Homo sapiens: one gene and its partner. The protein of the gene in region 1 interacts with the protein of each later gene in a pairwise test. Each region holds a gene or a part of one and is shown in the gene's direction. Other genes may lie near its edges.

Evidence for each region.
Region 2: the proteins of TEX48 (region 1) and FNDC3B interact in binary tests that used the Homo sapiens proteins (3 or more experiments, as listed by UniProt).

The regions. Positions count from the first base shown.
Region 1 is NC_000009.12:114,670,732-114,681,520, reverse strand, and holds part of TEX48 (testis-expressed protein 48), read left to right. Parts: exon of another isoform or gene 1-362; intron 363-9,693; 5' UTR 9,694-9,797; coding exon 9,798-9,801; intron 9,802-10,015; coding exon 10,016-10,138; exon of another isoform or gene 10,139-10,265; intron 10,266-10,789.
Region 2 is NC_000003.12:172,243,814-172,254,602, forward strand, and holds part of FNDC3B (fibronectin type III domain-containing protein 3B), read left to right. Parts: intron 1-3,719; coding exon 3,720-3,963; intron 3,964-7,446; coding exon 7,447-7,728; intron 7,729-10,789. UniProt on the Homo sapiens protein: May be a positive regulator of adipogenesis.

The DNA.
Region 1 (10,789 bases):
GATACTATTATTCTCATCCCCATTTTACAGGTCAGAAAACAGAGATTCAAAGAGGTCATAAATTCTAAATTTCCTAGCTAACAGTAGATCTCCAAGAATTATACCCCCAGAGAATGTGCTTGTAACTGATACACTGCTCTCCCTAAGAGCCTTTTCATTTCTTGAAGAGGGTTCAAAAACTCAAAGCTCTCTGCTGTCAACACTTAGAGGAGAAAGTGGTTCTACTACCCTCTTTCTTGCAAAATTTTCTAGTAAAGATGTGGAGAGAGCATCAGCACGGGGTGTCAACAAACCTGCGCTTCAGATCGCTGCTGATAATACGGACGATCTCCACGGTTTATTTTTAATTGAAAAAAATCAAGGTGCAAAACGTGGTGTATAGTAAGCTATCATTTGCATTAAAAAGAGAGAAAAAGAGAATTTGAATAACTACATTTTCTTGTATATCCATAAGCTGCTTTGGTGGAAGATGCCTGCATTCACTACATGAAACAAAAACTGAATTTATTTCTGGTTAAACAAGGGAGAACTGTGCTTGTATGGCAAAGTCTCTGAACAAAGCTCATGGCTGATGCATAAGGGGCTTTGGGAGGTGTTGAGTTCGTGGACTGGTGGTGTTTCAGAGGCAGCAGTGTTTAGGAATGGTAGACCTTTAGCTATGAAATGTACCTACTGGCATGTGTCTGTTAGAATGGTTACCAAGGGAGTTTCATTAATAGATTAAATGAGTGTCACACAGGTTCTGGGGATTCGTTGTTACCGTGGTTACAGGGCAATCCATCGTCACCTAGGAATGTGGGAGCTTCTCTTTTTAATTCTCATTATCTGCCTTCTGGTCTCCCTCAACTAAAGGTGCAGGAAAGACCCTCCAAGATTGTCCAGATCTTCACCACTGTCATTGGCTTTTCTTGAAAACACAGTTCCATTTTTCCATGTACAGAGATCTGGTTTTCATTTTGAGTATCAGTCTGCCTCATTTCTTCTCATTTTTTCTTTGAATCATTTGTTTCACCATTTGTCAAACCAGAGGCTACATAAAAGCATTCAGCTCTCTGGACAACAGAACCTGAATGATGCAAGACAATGATAATTAAGGCCAGGCACAGTGGCTCACGCCTGTAATCCCAGCACGTTGGGAGGCCAAGGCTGGCAGATCACCTGAGGTCAGGAGTTCGAGACCAGCCTGACCCAACATGGGGAAACCCCATCTCTACTAAAAACTAAAATTAGCCATGCGTGGTGGTGCATGCCTGTAATCCCAGCTACTCGGGAGGCTGAGGCAGGAGAATCGCTTGAACCCAGGAGGCGGAGGTTGCAGTGACCCGAGATCGCACCATTGCACTCCAACCCTGGCAACAAGAGCAAAACTCCATCTCAAAAAAAAAAAAAAAAAAAAAAAGGGACAATGACAATTAAAAGTATTTTCAAAAAGATCTGAAAGCCTCTCTGGAGTCATGCCCCATGATTTCCCTGGCATGACCATCTACCTTAGATAGCCAGGCTGCTTTTTCTTTGGGCTTAGCTATAGATTAACCTCACCTGTGATATTAATCCAGGCACAACGGGAGTGTTAGCAATGGTGCAGACTCCCCTAATTAGCTAAAATAAAACCCGAAGGTTTCTGTGATCCATAATTACTCAAACTAAGGATTTTAAATTGGTCAGGTGTACCCTAGGGTGTGGGCTACATGATTTGCTGTGTCAGTCAAGGTGAGGGGAAAAAAGGCACTTTAAATTGTTCAACTCAGAATCCTCAGAAGTCTGTTTCATCTACTAGTAGTTAAACCCCCAAGAAGGGTTTCATCCCTTCAGACTCTGTGTAAGAAGACATAGTCCACCGTGGGTGCTGGAGAATCATGCACTGGAATGGTCTAAGTATTCATCATGCAGAACAATTAGTCTTAATTATAGTTGGAATAGAAGAGTCTGATCTCCACATAAGAAACAAACCATATCAACAAGCAAGCAGTATAGCTGTTCATTTATATTTATAGACAATGCCCTTTGGGAGTTTAGAGGCAAAATAGGAAAATGTTAAGTGCAAAGTTCTCCTCAGAAAGACTCAGTAGACAGATATGGACAGCTGTCCTTCTGACATGGAACATTAGTTCTTCTAATGGCCTTTCTGCATACAGTAAGTGCAAGTGTTCTCCACAGACTCCAAATTCTTAAAGAACAGAGGAGATTTGGGTCCTGTCTTTATTTCAGGGGCCAGTTGTTTTATCTAGTAGGTCAAAAGATTATCTCGATTTCTAGTTAACATTTTAGGACTCTTGGAAAATGATCAAGATATCTACACTAATGGAATTTCCCATTCCAATTGATTTTTTCTAAATCCTCTATTTTAGATATGAGCTTTTGCATAAAGAAAGGGCTCCTTTTACTTACACTTTTTGTTTGCCCCAGAATGTCCTTTGAAAGTGTCCTGAAGTCTATTAAGTCACCTATTGATTCATCATTTTGTTTGTTATTCTTGAATCTTTGCCCTATCCACCCTTAAGAGAAAATCTTTTAAAATAGTTTCATGTGGCATACTTCCTATTTTTCTTACCCTCTCAAGTCCATGCTTAAAAATATTATGCATAGATAGGTTATTTGAATCTTCTGACCTTTTTCATCCTGCTACTCTTAAACATTTTCCCCATTGTTGAAGGTCAACAATTTTTTTTTTTTTTTTTTTTTGAGTCAGGATCTCCTGTTGCCTGGGCTGGAGTGCAGTGGCATGATTATAGCTCACTGAAGTCTTGATTTCTCAAATTCAAGCAATACTCTCTCCTCAGCCTCTGAGTAACTGGAAGTGCAAGTGCACACCACCATGCCCAGCTAAATTTTAATTTTTAGTAGAGATGAGGTATGTTGTCCAGGCTGGTCTCAAACTCCAAAACTCAAGCAATCTTCCTGTCTCAGCCTCCCAAAGTGCTGGGATTACAGGTGTGAGCCACTGTGCCTGGCCTAAAGGTCAACAACGAAATGAACTAATTGGTACAAATATGATAGTCCAAGACAATAAGTAACGAACAGAATCCTGAATTACACAGGATATACAAAACAAACTTTCTTTTGTTCTGAAATTTGGGAAGATTCTATTTTTACCCAACTCAACTCTTACTCAGAGTTTAAATTCGGCCTCTCTTGATCTACCTTCAGTGCAGAAGTTTTAGGTGGGTGTTGTGCAATGTGATTGTTCTTCTCTAGAAAAATGCTCCCTGAAAAAGTTTATTTGGGCAGCCAGGGGAAGGAGTAAGAGGAGTATACGTGGGTAGTAAAGATCAAGTTGGGTGGAGAGAGAAAGACAGAAGCAAAGAAAACAGGTGTCAGAAGGTTTGAGTAAGAGTAAGGTCTTTTTTATCTTTTTCTTCCTGAGGCCATAGCATTCCAGACAAAGAAGCCTTCTATTTATGTTTGGCATTTTTGTCTTCTCTCTTCTCTAGAGCTCCTCTTAAATCTGATTTTTGACATCAAAACTTTGTCATCATGGCTACAGTAATCCTAAGTCATCTAGTGAACTTTTGCCATTTATTAAGACAAATACATGAGAGTACCTATAGTGAGAGTATATATACGGAGTTTTTCCAGGAAGAGGCAACAACCTTAATGCAGATGAGACCACGACAAGCAGGAAAGAGCACGCTACAATTGATAAACAGTTTCTACTTGTGCAGTGTCTTGAATTTCTTGACCAAGCAGAGCCTAAAAGAGGCCACATGATCAAAAACCTGAAAATTACTGACTCCCGAATATAAGCTAAAAAAAAAAAGTGACCTTCTTTTATGATTTACCAAGACAGAACACATGCTGACAAAGGTTTAGAGGGACCCAAGTCCAGGTTTTAGCAATTTCTTCTAGACAAATCAATTACCACTCCAGTAAAACTCCAGACACTCAGGGCTGACTCATGGTGGGGGCTTGTCAGAGCTATGCTTCCATTCCTTTCTTATGAAGTGCATCCTTCTACATTCAACATACACAAGGCAGTCTGGAACAAAGCCAAACCCCGTGAGGCAAGCATTTTTATAAGTGGATGAAGACAACTGAAACTAAAGCAAGTAGCAGAATACGAAGCAGATTAATGGCAAGGATATTTGCTAAATGGTGTATCTCCAAAACAAAAGATCTAACTGCCTGTATAAATTTCTATTTCTTTATAAATTATAGGAAAATGAAATAAATCCACTAAAGAGAACTCAATGAAATACATCAGAGCTAAAATCATGTTAAAAAAAAAAAATCCCATGACACTGACACTAGGTCTAGGGAAAAACAAAAAAACAAACAAACAAACAAAAACACCTCACCTGGCAGCAGATCCAAAAGACTATTGGAGATTGGAGCTAAATGGACCTAGTGAGTGCCCCCACTTTGACCAAAAAATCCACACAATGGTGACATCTGTATGTGTCTAGCCCGCATCGTATCTAACCACAAGGAACAGCTTATGTGCAGAAAGTTAAAAATCAGTTAGTGGAAGGGAGGAAGGAGATCTGTTTGGCATAGTTTTTTTCCAACAGTCAGAGAAGGTTCATGTGTTTATTCAACAAATATGTATAAAGTACCTATTCTGTGCCCATCCCTGGGCTGAGTGCTGAGGATACAAAAGTGAATAAAGGCCAGGCGCGGTGGCTCACGCCTGGAATCCCAGCACTTTGGGAGGCCGAGATGGGCAGATCACTAGGTCAGGAGATCGAGACCATCCTGGCTAACACAGTGAAACCCCGTCTCTACTAAAAATACAAAAAATTAGCCAGGCGTGGTGGCAGGTGCCTGTAGTCCCAGCTACTCGGGAGGCTGAGGCAGGAGAATGGCGTGAACCCGGGAGGCGGAGCACGAAGTGAGACAAGATTGCGCCACTGTACTCCAGCCTGGGCAACAGAGCGCGACTCCATCTCAAAAAAAAAAAAAAGTGAATAAAATACTGTCCCTGCTTCCATGGACATTTGTCTATCCTGTGTCTTGTTCACTGCTATATCTCCAGCACCTAACAGTACCTGGAACATGGCAGGTTTTCAGTAAATACATGTGAAATAAATGAAGAAAAAAAAAAGAAAAAAGCTTGGCTGGGCTCAGTGTCTCAAGCCTATAACCCAGCACTTTTGGAGGCTGAGGCAGGAGATCTCTTGAGCTAAGGAATTCGAGATAAGCCTGGGCAATACGGCAAAATCCCATCTCTACCAAAACAAAAACAAAAAAACTATAACCGGGCATGGTAGTGCGAGCCTGTAGTCCAAGCTACTCAGGAGGCTGAGGCAGGGAAATCGCTTGCACCTGGGAGGATGAGGCTGGAGTGAGCCCTGATGGTGCCACTACAGTCCAGCACGGGTGTCAGAGTGAGACCCTGTCTCAAAAAATAAAAAAAGAAAAGAAAAAGAAAAAGGAAAAAGCTCATGAACTAGTATCCAGACTGTCAACAAGAGGCAGTTACAAGACAACGTTTCAACAAGTGTTTATTAAGCATTTACCATGAGTTAGGCAGTCACTGTACAATAACAGGCTGTGTACAGGAAAACATGGTGGGCCAGCAGGGGAGTGCTGTGGGAGCACAAGGGAGGGACTCCTAACTTATCCCATGCCTTCCTGTAGCCCCTGAGCTGAATCCTGGAGTTTGATGACTCAAGGATTGAGGTGAGAACATCCCAGGTAGAGGGAACAGGATGTGAACAGGGTCCATTCAGTAAAAGGTGATTGGGGAAGCTGCCTATACAGCATCTCTTATGGCTGTAGGGCGGTGAGTGCAACCCAGAGAAGATGAGGATGAAGAGAATAACAGTGGTGATCACAAAAGGAGTTGGATCTGCAGACTTGGGGACCCCCTTGGTGGGGCAGAGGGTTGTTGGGGCAGAAGAGAGATAGGATTTACATGTCTACCAGATAACTCTAGCTTTAGGTGGAGGCAAACAAACCAATGAGAAAGTTTAAGCAGTGGTCCAGGTGAGAAGTGATGGTGGCTTACACTACGGTGAAGGAAATGGCAAAGGATTGGCTGGGCAGACAGACTGAAGAGATATTTGGAAAGTAAAGTTCAAAGACTGATGAACACGAGCAGATGGCAGGAGGCTGGCAGGCTTCTGACTCTAGAGACAGAGTGAATAATAGGATCATCCCACGAAATAGGGAACATGGGAAGAAGATAGATATGCTTTGCAGTGGACAGGGAAGAAAAATAGTCCCAACCAGTAAACAGAGAGCAGAACTAAAATTGACTCATGAAACCATCAGAGTAAGCTTAGCATGTGAATGAGGTAAGCTGTGTCCTACAGCTTGTGATGTTCCTGGCACAAAAACTACCACCCACCTCTCTACTGCCCCCAGGGCCTGCAAGTGCTTTTACTCAAGACAAGAATAAATGCTAGTTTATTCTACAAACACCCTCAATTTTTATTCTACAAACAATTATTGACTTCCCACACTGCACTAGGTACTGCTCTAGACACTGAGAATAGAGCAGTAAACCAAACAGCTAAAATCCATGACCTCATGTGACTTCTAATTTAGTGGGAAGAAGCAGACCTTCAACACAGTAATTTAGCAAATTATGTAGAGTGTTAGGAAATGAAGCTGGGCACGGTGACTCACACCTGTAACCCCAGCACTTTGGGAGGCCAACATGGGAGGATCACTTGATTTCAAGACCAGCCTGAGCAATACAGTGAGACCCCTTCTCTTAAAAAAAAAAAAAAAAAAGAATTTGCTGGACATGGTGGCATGCACCTGTAGTCCCAGCTACTCAGGAGGCTGAGGCAGGAGGAGCCCAGAAGTTCAAGGCTGCAGTGAACCATGATTGTGCCACTGCACTCCAGCCTGAGCATAGAGCTAGACCCTGTCAAGAAAGAGAGTGAGAGCAAGAGAGAAGGAAAGAAGGAAGGAAGGAAGGAAGGAAGGAAGGAAGGAAGGAAGGAAGGAAGGAAGGAAGGAAGGAAGGAAAGAAAAAGAGAAAAGAGAAAAAAAGAAAGAAAAGAAAAAAAGAAGAAAAAGAGAGAAAGAAAGAAGAAAAAAGAAAGAGAAAATGTTTGAAAAGTAAACAAGGAAGAGATTAGGAAGTGCTGGGGTGCTGGGCAAGGGGGTTATAATGTTAAATACAACAGAGAAAGTCTCACTAGAAAAGGTGAAGCAAAGACTTGAAGGTAATGACAGAATGTTGTTATCTAAGAGAACTGAATTCCAGGCAGAGAGTAAAACAAGCACAAATTGTTGAGTTGGGAGCTTGCTGTGTTTTAAAACTCAGCAGGGGGGGCAAATGGAATTGGGGAATTGGAGGAATTGAAGACAGAGTTGGTGATGAGGGTTGTGGGTGGACAGGAGGGAAGAAGGATGATTAGATTACAGAGTATCTTAAGACCCAGGTGAGAACTTTGGTTTTTCTTCTGAGGAATATGCAAAACCACTGAATTTTGGAGAAAAGAAAGAGAAAAAATCTTTCTGGCCAGGCGCGGTGACTCACTCCTGTAATCCCAGCACCTTTTGAGGCCAATGTGGGAGGATCACTTGAGCCCAGGAGTTCAAGGCCAGCCTGGGCTATATAGGGAGACCACGTCTCTACAAAAAATACAAAAGTTAGCCAGGTGTGGTGGTGCACACCTGTAGTCCCAGCTACTGGGGAGGCTGAAGCAGGAGGATCACTTGAGCCCAGGAGTTTGAGGCTGCAGTGAGCTGTGATCACGCCACTGTACTCCAGCCTGGGTGACAGAGTAAAACTCTGTCTCAAAAAAAAAAAAAAGTTTGCATTTACCCCCACATATTTGCTATTTCTTATCCTATTCATCCCTTTCTGTAAATGTGAATTTCCATCTGGTATCATTTTCCTTCGATCTTAGCATTTTTTACAGCCTGGGCCTTCTAAAGACAAATTCTCTCTATTTTTGTTTATCTTATAATGTCTTCATTTTGCCTTAATTATTGAAGGATATTTTCATGGAATATGAAGTGAAAGGTTTACAGTTTCTTTCTTTCATGTTTATTTATTCCAGTTGTTTTAAGAGCCTGTTCTTTACTTTTTAGCCATTTGACTAAAATGTGCCTAGGTGTGATTTTCTTTTCTTTTCTTTTTTTTTTTTTGAGACAGAGTTTTATTCTTCTTGCCCAGGCTGGAGTGCAATGGCGTGATCTCGGCTCACCACAACCTCCGCCTCCAGGGTTCAAGCGATTCTCCTGCCTCAGCCTCCTGAGTAGCTGGGATTACAGGCATGTGCCACACACCCAGCTAGTTTTGTATTTTTAGCAGAGACGGGGTTTCTCCATGTTGGTCAGGCTGGTCTCGAACTCCTGACCTCAGGTGATCTGCCAGCCTCGGCCTCCCAAAGTGCTGAGATTACAGGCATGAGCCACCGCGCCCGGTCGTTGTGATTTTTTGTTTTTCATGTTTGGTGCTCACTGAATACTTATGTTGATGCTTTCCATCAAATTTAGTAACTTTTCAGCCACTATTGCCAAATATTTTTTCTGCCCTTCGTCCTTCTGAGAGTCCAGTAACGCGCGTATGTTATACAGCTTGGTAGCATCCCGCAAGGTCAGTGGGGTACTCTTCATCCTTTTAAAATCTTTTTTGCTTTCCCTGTTTCAGTTTGGATAATTTCTATTGACCTTTTCGCAAGTTTACTGATCATTGCTTTTGCTTTGTCCAATCTGTTGTTAACCCTACCCAATACATATTTTCTTCAGATACTGGTTTTTATAGAACTAGAATTTCTATTTGATTCTATTTGAGTTTCCATTTCTTCCTTCCATATTATATCGCTCCATCTACTATACCCATTTTTTCCTATCCTTGGAAGTTTTGAGCTGAAGAGTGACATGATATATTTTAACAGAACTACCCCAACTTTTGTATTAATTATGGAGGAAGTTCAGGGTAAGAGAAATAAGGAGACCAGTCAGGAAGCTATCGCAGGAATTCAGGCAAGAGATGATGGTGGCTTAGGCCAGGGTATGGCAGTAGAGAAAATGGGACTCAAGTGCCTATAATGAAGGCAAAACTCACAAAGCGAAGTGAATTAGGTATTGTGAGGGACGCCTAAACAATACCATGATAAGAATTTCCTTTTAAAGAGGGTTTTGCCACAAGAAGGGGAGTGAGAACAGAATGTATCCAGAGATCTAAAAACTTGATACACAAATAAAGGGATCTGGGACTAAAGCAAGGCCTTATAATCCTGGACCTTCAAAACTAGAAAGATCCTTGAGGAGATCATCCAGCCTAACTTCTTACTACTGACGAGGAGCCTGAGACACAGAAAAAAGCATGGACCTACCCAAAGCCCTCCAGCAAATTAGTGGCAAAACCAGAATTTAAACCTACAAGTCCATATGCTTCCTTTCCATAGGACCTGGACCAGCTGGGATCATTGGAAGCCAGTGAGCTACATAAAGAGAAGGGAGGAAAATGGAATGACCATTGATTGAGCACTTACCATATACCTAGCTTCACAGGAGCTACTTTTCATATATATGAGTCTTTACTCCTGCAAAGTAGGCACTGCTATTCTCATTTTTCAAGTGATAAAAGTGAAGTTCAAAAAGGGTAAAGAATCCACCTAAGAACATGCACCTGTTCATGGGGTAGGACACAGAGCTATCTGAAACCTGAGCATGTTTATGTGCATGTCTGCATGAGGTGGGATTTTGCTGTCATTAGATCCTATCTGGAGTGTGAACACAGGTGAAGGACTAGCATTTTTCAGCCACGGTCTTATGTTTACTTAGGAAACAGCCCAGCCCAGTGAACTGGGCTCAAACTCAAGACTGGCTGATTCAACAAGGCACCCCTGCAGACAAAGCTGGCAGAGTAGAAGTTTCAACTCCTTTCCATGGGTAAGAAAACTTTGTACAGAATAGGAAAAAATGGCCTAGGCAGAAGGATCTGCTGGCCATGGGAAGCTACAGAAGATTTGGGAGAGGGGAGGAGTATTATATTAATGCCTTGGGAGAGGCTGACCCAATGATACCCCCACCACAGTCAATTTCCAATAGGCATCTGGAATTCAGATTCCGGAACCCATGCCCCTCATTCCTTTGCCTCCAACAGCAGCCCACCAAAACCTGATCTTGAAGATCTTCTGTTTATGCTGCAGGGACTGTCAGGAGCCCTATGCCATCAATGACTCCAAGGTTCCCAGTCAAACCCAGGAGCACAAGCCATCGACCCAAAGTAGGTATCAGATAAGGACACTCTGCATGGCCTCTCTAAACCTCACTTTGCTCACTCTCTGCCTGCTGGGATACCCCCAAACTGCCTTCATCACTATCACTGAGTGATAATTCCAATTTAAAATGAGGTGGGTGTTGGATGGCTAAGTACTCAAACCAATAAACAAGAGAGCTTAAACTCTTGTGCTTAAAGTGTAGTCTATGGGCCAGCAATATTGGCATCACTTGGGAGCTTGTTAGAAATGCATTTTCAGACCCCGCTCTGGAACTACTGAATCAGAACTGGCACTTTAACAGGATCTCCAGGTAAATTTGAATGTACATGATAGTTTGAGAAGCACTGGATTAAAGACTATAAAAATAGTGGTTAAGATCCCTGTTTTGGGGGCAATACATGTTAGTTCAAACCTCAGCTCTGCCACAGAAATTGGGCAAGTCTCTTGACCTCCCTGAGTCTCACTGTCCTTGCCTCTAAAACAGGGATATTCACAATACATTATTATTGTGAGGCAATATAAATAAGCATCTAGCTCAGGGTCTGGCACAGAGTAGGCACTCAACATGCAGAAAAAATATATAGGTATTGATCAGGATAGAGTATGTTCTGCTGCTGAAACAAATAAGCCTTGAAATCTCAATGGTTTACAAAATA
Region 2 (10,789 bases), on another chromosome or scaffold:
AAATACAGTCACATTCTGAAGGTAGTGAGCATCAGAACGTCAACATTTGAATTTGGGGACACATAAGTCAGCCCATGATAGGTGACAGTCTGAGAACCCGGCATAATGATCTTTTCCAAGGCTCTATGCTTCTCTGGAGAGGATATGTGAGTGACAGTTCTGTTGGGTCATAGAGCTGGAAAAAATTTAGATGAAGAATATTTATTCTGATTTCTGAAATCACCACACTTCTGCTTTCTTAACAGCACTTACTAGGACTTAGTCTAATTTTTCTCTTTATATTCTTAGGCTGTGTGGATGAGTCTTACTGTTGAGCACTTATTTTTTCTCCCCTTTGAATATCCAGTCCTTAGCACATAGTATGTGTCAGGAAATAATAGTTGAATTGAATACAGGTGATTCATCTGCCTCTGGACATTCTCACAATTTCCTACACCACAAAAGGAAATGAATTTGTCTTTTCCTTAGTCGTCTACCAAGAATGAAGGCATATTTTTTTTGCCTCAGGTGTTTTGGACTGAATTCTGTCTGATGTCTAAATTCGACTACAGTAATATATTTATTTATGAGCCATCTTTATTAAAGAATGTTACTGCCACCGTTTCCTTAGTTGCCAATTATTTTGTGCATTGTTATTGCTCCTCAGATTTTCTTATTTTGGGGGAGACTTAGGCATAATTTCCTTAGATGTAGATCAAAGCTGAATTGGATAACTAAAATATGTTGCAATTTATGTTATAGAAAAATGGTAAAAATATTCACATATTTTTTATATTTCTACTATTTCAGAATTAATATTTCACCTTTTTTTTTTTTTTTTTTTTTTTTTGAGTCGGCGTCTCCGTCTGTCACCCAGGCTGGAGTGCAGTGGTGCGATCTTGGCTCACTGCAGCCTCCACCTCCTGGGTTCAAGCAATTCCCCTGCTTCAGCCTCCTGAGTAGCTGGGACTACAGGTCCACGCTGCCACACCCTGCTAATTTTTTGTATTTTTAGCAGAGATGGGGTTTCACCATGTTGGCCAGACTGGTCTTGAACTTCTGACCTCAGACAGTCCACCTGCCTCGGCCTCCCAAAGTACTGGGATTACAGGCGTGAGCCACTGCGCCTGGCCAATATTTCACTTTTTTAAAATAAATCTTTTTAATGATAAGACAGGCTTGGGTTTGTCAAGAACAGGTTTCTAAAAGGGTTTCATTATGCATGCACATGTAAATAAAAACCTTTTACAAATCCCACAGAATAAGATACTTTAAAATGGAGCTGTCAAGCAATTTTTATATGTACAGGCAATTTGTGGTTTCAAAAAGCTACTTCAAAAAAAACTTCAAAAAGTTAGTGCTTTTTGATAATTTTTTTTTAAAACCACTTTGTTAACAGGTCCAAAGTTATATGATAAAATGATCAAATAAATTTTTTCGTTATAAATAGTCTTGTTTAAAAGTCCAAAGCGTGCCTCTTAATATTTAGTGAGAGCCCTGTTCTTGTTCTACTTCATCAGTTGTCTATGTTGCTGGTTGACTTTTGGAAGTTTTACACTGAATGAAAGAATAAAGATTGTAAACCTCTAGAAAACAAGTACTTTACTTCTGTGGTCCTTCCAGGATTGAATGAAGGTTCCATGAAAGAGAAACATCTGGAATATGCCTTTTTTTTTTCTTAATAGCTAGTAGAGGGTGAGGAGGGAAATAAGACACTGTAGGATAATGCATGTTTGTGTCAGATCGTAGGAAAAAAATCATGATGTATTTATACTACATGTGCTATTTATATACATGTGCTACCAAACAGCATGCAGCTCTATGTTTTAGACAAAATAGAAGAAGCTTTGATGATAATTATCAATACATGCATGAGAATTTCCAATGTCATGGTTTAAGCACCCACTTCACATACACTTGTAAATTAGCTTCCATGCATTCATAAATGGGGTTAGTGTGATTAGCTTGCCAAGGCCCAGAAGAGATTATATTTATTAAAGATCACATGAAAAGCTGTGTCCTAGGCATCTCACTAGGAATCTTAATTTTAAATAGGTAATATTATCTTATTTATGAACTATTAACACAGTAGAAACATTTATTTTGATAGATTTATTAATGAATGTAAAGATTTCTGTTTTTTTAACATAAGGATTAATGGCCGTTCATTCAATCTAAACCTATTTTGTACACTGAAATATAACATAAACATTGATAGACTTGCCAATCTGTCTTAAGCACTACTTTTAAAATATGAAGCTAAGTATAGTTTTTTGTTGTTATTAAGATGTTTTAGACATGATTAAGTCATTTTATTTTGTCCTATAATTAACCTCCTGAGGTATAATGAGAAATCCATTTCAATATAGAAGGTCAGTTTTGTGCGGTTTTTAGATTTTTTTTTTTTTGTAAAACAAAACTTCCTGTCAGAGTGTGTGCCCGATCGTGCATTTGATTAGATCAGCTGGCATGGCTTCTTGGCAGCCTGGCCCTCACTGCCAGGTTTACTCCGTGTCCACTTCCTTGCAGGGCCCTGACCTAGAGGCCATCTCTCAGCTGTCCCAGCCCTGCCAATTGTTTGAGGTCCCTGAAGCCTTTCCTGATTCTCCCATCTCACGTTATCATTCTCTGTACCCTACAACTTTACCTTTTCATCATGGTATCTGTTGTGTTAGTTATTTCTTTCATTGTGTTTCACCAAAGTTGTTTGCTCATAGGAGCTGGTAGTGTGACGCTGGCCACAGAGGCAATAAATATTGGCATTGTGCTGCCTTCGTTGCTCTACTTGGATGAATTAGAAAACATTCAGAGGAGCTGGGCACGGTCGTGCATGCCTGTAGTCCCAGCTACTTTGGAGGCTGAGGCAGGAAGATGACTTGAGGCCAGTTCAAGGCTGTAGTGTATGATGATCACACCTGCGTGTAGCCACTGCACTTCAGCCTGGGCAACAGAGTGAAATCCCATTTCTAAAAATAAATAATGAACAAAGAATTGGAAAAAGAATGGATAGAGTGTTGATTGGCTTGCTTTTCTCATAGCAGGTTGCTTTTCCAAGCATCTTCTTTCACAACACTCATCATGAGGACATCTTGGGAGCAAAAGTGTCCATACTGATTTGGGGTTACTTAAGTTTTTCTTTGGTCAGAATCCCTCATTTCATCCATATCCTCAGTCCTAGATTAAGTAATCTTAGGGCACACTTACGGCTTCTGACGTTAATGCCACCTTTGTTTCCTAAAGCCCTGATGATGATGGAACTGTGCATGTTAAAGCAGGAAAGGGGAAGAATGTTGTCAGCATATCTAGAAGCCTAGCCCTGGAAAAGTACTTAGGTGGCACAGAAAGCCTCTTTCTGGAAAACCACTGAACTGATAGTTAAATTCAAAAGTCACTCCTAGAATCAGTTTCAGCACACATTAAATTCACTCGTCTTGGATGAAGCCAGTGAAAATTTTAAGACAAAAACAAGATTTATTATCAAATACTGGTCTCTCCAAAAAGTTACATGGGATCAGAATCAGATGTCAATGAATAATTTGTTTTTGTACGTTTTTATAGTTACATGTTATTACTTCTAGAACTCATTTGACTGGTTGAACTAGAGAACCAGAATACAACATGCATTTGTTTTTTTCTATGGTGGAAGAGAAAAGTAAAATTAAAGTGGAAGTTATTAATACTATATATATTCATAGGCTGCTAATATGTACTGCGTTCTTTCCTTTTGTGTTTTTCTTTAGGTGATTGAAGATAGTACTGGAGTCCGCCGGGTGGTGGTCACACCCCAGTCTCCTGAGTGTTATCCCCCAAGCTACCCCTCAGCCATGTCTCCAACCCATCATCTCCCTCCCTATCTGACTCACCATCCACATTTTATTCATAACTCACACACGGCTTACTACCCACCTGTTACCGGACCTGGAGATATGCCGCCTCAGTTTTTTCCCCAGCATCATCTTCCCCACACAATATATGGTGAGCAAGGTGAGTAGATTTTCGTTGGCGTCAGGAGCCGTTGAAACTGATTACAGCGTTTCAATAGTTCAAGGCGGTCCTTTGTTTCTTGTGAAATAAGCATAGTAGAAAAGGATCTAGGTGGTTTGTAAGACTCATGGGGAATTCCTAGCTTCCTTTGTCCTGAATGGTGCCTTGGAAAAATTACTTTGTGGGTTTAGTTCTTTTTCTTTCTTTCAGTTTTCACAAACTCGGCCCCAACCCCCACCTTACAAGATCAAGGAGTAAGGTAGCCACCTTTTATTTTAGAAAAGTGGCAGTGTGACATCGTTCCCATGTCCTGAAAGCATGTTTGTATGTGAGAGTGGCCTGAGGTACAACTGTGGCACATCGTTTCTTTGGTATCCATATGATCTACCAGTTAAAGGGAAATTGAAAAGTGTTTTGTGCCCCATTTCCAGTGTTTGAAGATTGTGAAGTCTCAAGAACCTTTAGGTTTCCTAAAAGGCTCTATGTTGTGATGCTGGCAGAACTCAAAAATCCCCTGGCTGTTGATGTGGCCTTCCTGAACCTGCTTTTAGTTTAAGAGTAGCCATTAGTGCAGCCGCAATTTCACTGATTGTTAGGCAAATACTTACCTGGATATGAAAAGAGCCTCAGAGCTACCAACATTATATCTTTTTAAAGTTTTGACCCTGGTGTTGGTTTAGTCTAAAGGCTTTCTCTATCAAAATGGATACTAAGAAACCAGATAATTGAGGGTAAAATTAGACTTTAGCCTCTAGGACTTTGCAAAGTGATTTTCTTCTGAGTCTGACTATGAATGGAAGCATTTTACTGCTTCAGACATTTATTATGTTGGTTTAGATACATTGTAGAAGAAATGCCTGTTATACCATAGAATGTTTGAGCAAGTTATCACTTTTAAGAATTATATATATATAATTATATAATTTCTATATAATTAATTATTTATTTATAATTATATTTTTATATATATAATTATTCCCTGTTCATCTCACATTATAACTTATTCACAGAAAAAACTTTTTTGAGATGATATTTTAAGTGAAATATATCGTTGTAACTTAGGGATAGAATTTGACTGTATGTGTGTTTTGTTTATTTTTTTTTGTAGTCAAAGAAATTTGACATGATTCAAATTAATCAGGTGCTTTCACAATGTCGTATAAGGGGATGATAGCAAAACATGAAATCAATACTTTGATTTCATAGCAGCATCAATAACTTCCTATCAATTTGATCTTTTTTCCATGCGACACACCAAGAAAACATCAAGTATTGGGGATATACTATGAAAACATTTGGATAAAAACTGAAAAAATTTAGTTAGCTGTAATTTTTTTAATGTATTCAGTGCTTTGACTCAACATGCATTAAATAATTGAGTGTTTCTTAGAGCTTTCTGGCTGTATCTGAGCTCTGATGACATGAAAGGCCTTGGTGACTGACTCATTGCTTGCTGGTATATGTCTGACTTGCCTTATTTTAGCAGTCTGTTAGTAGGATGCCACATGGTTACTGTTTTGTAAATGCTGTCCTTTGCAATTTTAGGCAAGACAACAGTATGATTTAAATCGTCATTAGAGTTAAGCAAAATTGTAGTCTCTTCATTTTATGGTGTATTTGGGTCTAATTCCATTAAAATAACACAGAGCAATAATGTATGCAAATAAAAATGCCTTCATTGATTTCAAATTAAAGCAGTAAAACAAAATCCCTTCCCTTTATAAATAAGCCATTGATATATTCTTTTACCTTAGTTCTTAGTGTGCATACCTAAAAGCAATTTAAATATTAATTTTCTAAACTATAAGAGTTTTAAAAGTTTTCAACATGTCTGAAAAGATTATTACTGCCCATAGTGAATATGTTAAATCTCATGTGTAATACATCGTGGTGTTTAGAACATTTACTATCCTTCTGGTATATTTTGACATAGTTTCTTTGGATACACACTCTCTGAATAGGATTATATTTGTTTTGACACGTTCTCTAGTGCAAACTGGTTCTCTCATGAAGATTTGTTTTTTAACAAAACAACTCTTGTTTATGCTTTAGCTATGTTAACAGTAAGAAACAGTGGAGCTTTACTGTTGAGTAATTGAGACAGCAGTTTTGTTAAATTATGCAGGGTAACCATACATTTCTGTTGTGCCTGTGACAGTCCTAGTGTAGGTCTCTTGCCTTGAAGAAATTATTGATATTCCTTCCTTTTCGCTCTCAGAAGTGTTCAGATTTGGATGGTAATTTATATTGTCACTCCATAGAAGAGGTGACCCTTTTTTCTTATAAAGATGTAAGGACCCAATCTTTATGTTACGCATTGTCATTTTTACTGATACCTAAAAATAATTTTGAACTGATTTAAAAATTTAAATTTAACATAAAGTTTTCCCCTTGAGATCATAAGATTGCTTGCAGGCTTCTATTTTCTTTTGAGCCACTTTAAAATGTGCATAGTAAAGTCAGGTGACATTCTACATTTGTCTTGCCTTCTATTACTCCAAAAGAGAAGTTTGAGACCACAGCTTATTATGTTTGGCACCAGATTTCAGAGATGGCTTTTCTTTATCCTTATACTTCCTCCTTGAACATTTCCCCTGATTCTGTGAGCTTTGATTATTTTAAATGGAAATATGTCATCTCATTATCTTAGTTAAATTTGTTCAAATGTTGGCTCTTTTGTATGCCACAGAAAACTTTGACTGCAATATACTTCCCAGTAGAAATACTATTCTGTCTACAGGGATGAGTAGACTTTTAAAGTAGCTTGATTCTAAGTACATGTTTAATAGGGGTATTTTATTTGTTCTGACTTTTTCATGTATTGCAACTACTGAAAACATATTGAAAGGTAAAAATCAAACTCAGTTATAAATGCAACTAGAATATGAGCTCTTTAGGGATAACAACCTTGTCTTCAGTATTCTCTGTAATATAGGAATTTTTCTGAACACACAGTGTAGTTTTTAATGATTGATTATTCCTTGATTGGTTAGAAACAAATGGGAATGCTTTAAATGTATATCATGTATATGGCATTTTCTTTTTTCTTTTTCTTTTTGAGACAGAGTCTTGCTCTGTCGCTCAGGCTGGAGTGCAGTGATGCAATCTCAGTTCACTGCAACCTCCGCCTCCAGGGTTCAAGCGATTCTCCTGCCTCAGCCTCCTGGATAGCTGGGATTATAGGCGCCTACCACCACGCCTGGCTAATTTTTTGTATTTTTAGTAGGGATGGGGTTTCACCATGTTGCCCAGGCTAGTTTCGAACTCCCAAGCTCAGACAGTCCGCCCACCTCGGCCTCCCAAAGCGTGAGCCACTGTGCCCAGCAGTATTTTCTTAAAAAATATTTATTAGACTCTATTTAGTAATACTTTAGACTTCCTTTATACTTTAGACTTCTTCAGGAGCCAGATCATTTGACCATTTAATAATTTATTATTGAAAATGTAAACTGAGTTTGGGTTTATCATAATCATCCATTTTAGAAATTATACCATTTTATGGAATGTCAACCTACATCACCCGAGAAGACCAGTACAGCAAGCCTCCGCACAAAAAACTGAAAGACCGCCAGATCGATCGCCAGAACCGCCTCAACAGCCCTCCTTCTTCTATCTACAAAAGCAGCTGCACAACAGTATACAATGGCTATGGGAAGGGCCATAGTGGTGGAAGTGGCGGAGGCGGCAGCGGTAGTGGTCCCGGAATTAAGAAAACAGAGCGACGAGCAAGAAGCAGCCCAAAGTCGAATGATTCAGACTTGCAAGGTAATACTCAAGATGTTTGCCATAGAGTGAATTATCAAGACAGAGACATCTCAAATGATGTTTCCACATCTTTTACATGAGAATATTATTTCATGGTGGTTGGTTGTTCTGCTAAGAATATTTGAGTAGACCTTCTTTGATCTATTTCTTGGTAAGGAAATAATATTGCATTGTTTATTTTTTATTAATACTTCATGGCAGAAATACTACATTTTGGTCACAGATGCCATGCAACTTTGCACTTAATAACAAATATTTGAAAATCTTTTCATGTTAGCCTACTTCTGTTGTTTCACTCTCTGAATAGACAGATGTGGAAGAAATCCAAAGATAATTTTTCTAAAAGTGTAGGCTAGTTTAAATCTCAAAATAATTATACCTCATAAACCATACGTAATTACTTCCTTTCTGTAATGAAATCTATCATTGAATCACAGAAATATGTTTCTGTTTAGTTTTGGCATCAGTTATTGTCTCATACCACCTTTTGCCTGTGAATTAAGTGTTCAGAAACTAAGAATAAGATGGAAGAATGAGGGCCACCACATATAGGTAGAGAAACATCAACTCAGAATGGCATCTGTCTTTTTGTAGATGAATCTCTTGGGTAGATCAGTTCATTTGGAGGAAGGTTTATGTGTTTAAATGAAGTTTTGGAGGTAGTTTAGAGAGAACCTATTTTGATGCCACATAAGGAAAAACAGTGGCTATTTCTATAGGCATAGGGAAGAATGACTTAAGTGAGGCAAAAAAGGTAGCATTTGGATAAGGTAGGTGAGTTTATAGATATAAATGACTGGAAAACAAAGACTTGAACAACTTTTAAACATAAGATCAATTATTTCAAGTAGATTCCCTTTTTCATTCACAATCACATTCTCACAGACACAGTCCCAGTTTCTACCTGACTGAGATGCAGTAAGGAATCTGATTATAACACTCATTGATTATAACACTCATTGAATTTATGGATTCCTTACTGCATCTCATTCAGGTAGAAAAAGGGACTGTGTCTGTGAGAATGTGATTGTGAATGAAAAAGATGGAATATGTGTATTTTTGAGTGTCTATGGAAGAGCTTCTGACAAGAGAGAGGAAGATTAGGTAAAATGAAATATCGCCGTCGGCATTTCCCCCTACGTTATTTGGGTGAGTGAATTTCAGCCTGAGAGAGGAATAGTAAGATACAGTGAAATGTGAATAGATCATGTGTTCTTTTAATTTGAATTATGTATTCTTTTCTCTATTTTCCAAACTCTGCAATTATCACGTTATTCTTATAACTCTTAAACAAAACATAAATCAATATCATACAAAAGAAAGCAAAGATTCAAGAGACTTTTACACAACTCTTAAGGGAAGATGCTGGGTCTCATATAAAATAATTTTTAGTCAAATGATACTGTAATTTCTAAGTTTGAAATTAGTTTATTAGCAATGTTACAATTTAACCATGACTATACAAGAACTCATACTAAAAAAAATTATGAATAGATTTTCCTGAAGAGAATTTTTATCCGAAGAAAAACGAGAGAGAATGTATAAATTGTCCAGAGAGCTTACGAGGTTTGAAGTACTTTGATTACTTGACTCATTCTTTAATAATTTTCACCTTGCCTTGCACCAAAACTGATTTAAGGGAAATGACTTAGACACAAAGAAGCAGATAAAATAAATGTAAGCATTAAGGAGCCGAAAGATGATAAGGGAAGGAAAATATTAATAAGATGAAGCAGGGTTCCAGTAGCATTGCTTGATGTGAGCCATATATTTTGTTTTCAGCCTCCTGGTTGTCACAGCAAAAAGGCAAACGTGAATCACATAGTGTAGACGAAGAATAAAACACTTCTTGTTCATGGGGTCCATCAAGTGGCTCACAATGTTTCAGTTGTGTCTGCCTCAAAATGTGGTTGTTGGCTCCTAGGATCCCAAAAGGCTTTTTCCTTCTTTCTCATCCTTACAGTGTATCTCCTGCTGGAGTTTACTGCGGCTGACATCTAAATCTGTGCCCCGGAAACAGACTTCTTAACTGATTCTTAAGTTTCCAGTGCCACCTGATTAATCTAAAACTATACTTAATACTAGTATGATAAACCTAATAGGTTCATATGTGGTTTGCACAAGAGTAGAATATATACCTAACCATAACATGTGACTTGTGTGTGTTTTTTGTTTTTGTTTTTTTTATGTAATGTTTTACTTAGGTTAAGTTGTTCTCATGGCCAGAAGAGAGAAATCTTTTTACTTTTTTTTTTTGAGATGGAGTCTTGCCCTGTCACGCAGGCTGGAGTGCAGTGGTGTGATCTCAGCTCACTGCAACCTCCGCCTCCCAGGTTCAAACCATTCTCCTGCCTCACTCTCCTGAGTAGCTGGAATTACAGGCATGTGCCACCACACCCTGCTAATTTTTGTATTTTTGGTAGAGATGGGGTTTTGCCATGTTGGCCAGGGTGGTCTCAAACTCATGACCTCAGGTGATCTGCCCACCTCGGCCTCCTTCTTTTTACTTTATAATTCCTTTGCCTTTGAGTTAATTTGCTTGAATAATTTAACTTTTTATCACTTACAAAAAACAAATCTTTAAAAAAAGACTAAGTTTGTGCCTGGTCCTGTGGTAAAACTAAGCACATGTAAAAGAAGCAAACAACTCATGTTAATATAAATACATGTATTAAAAAGATGCGGATACCTTAATTTCTCTCTTGAGGTCTAGTTCACTCAGTTAACTATGCTTCAGAAACTTTAAAGCAATAGAGATTCATGGACTCCATTTTAGACCTACTAAATCAGAATCTTCATACCACTTTTGACTTCATGTTTTTTTTTTTAATCAAACCTCCATTGGGGATAATGTATAATCAGCCAAGATAGAAAATTATTATACTATCATAGTAATAAGGATGGTTAACCAAGTTGTACACAGTATGGAATAGGGACTGTATCTGTTTTATTCATCATTCTCTCCCTCCTTCTAGTACCTGACACATAGTAGGTACTCAGTATATATTGTTAAATGAGTCCTGTTTTCTTAATTGCCTTGTTTTCCAGAGTAAGCCTTCTT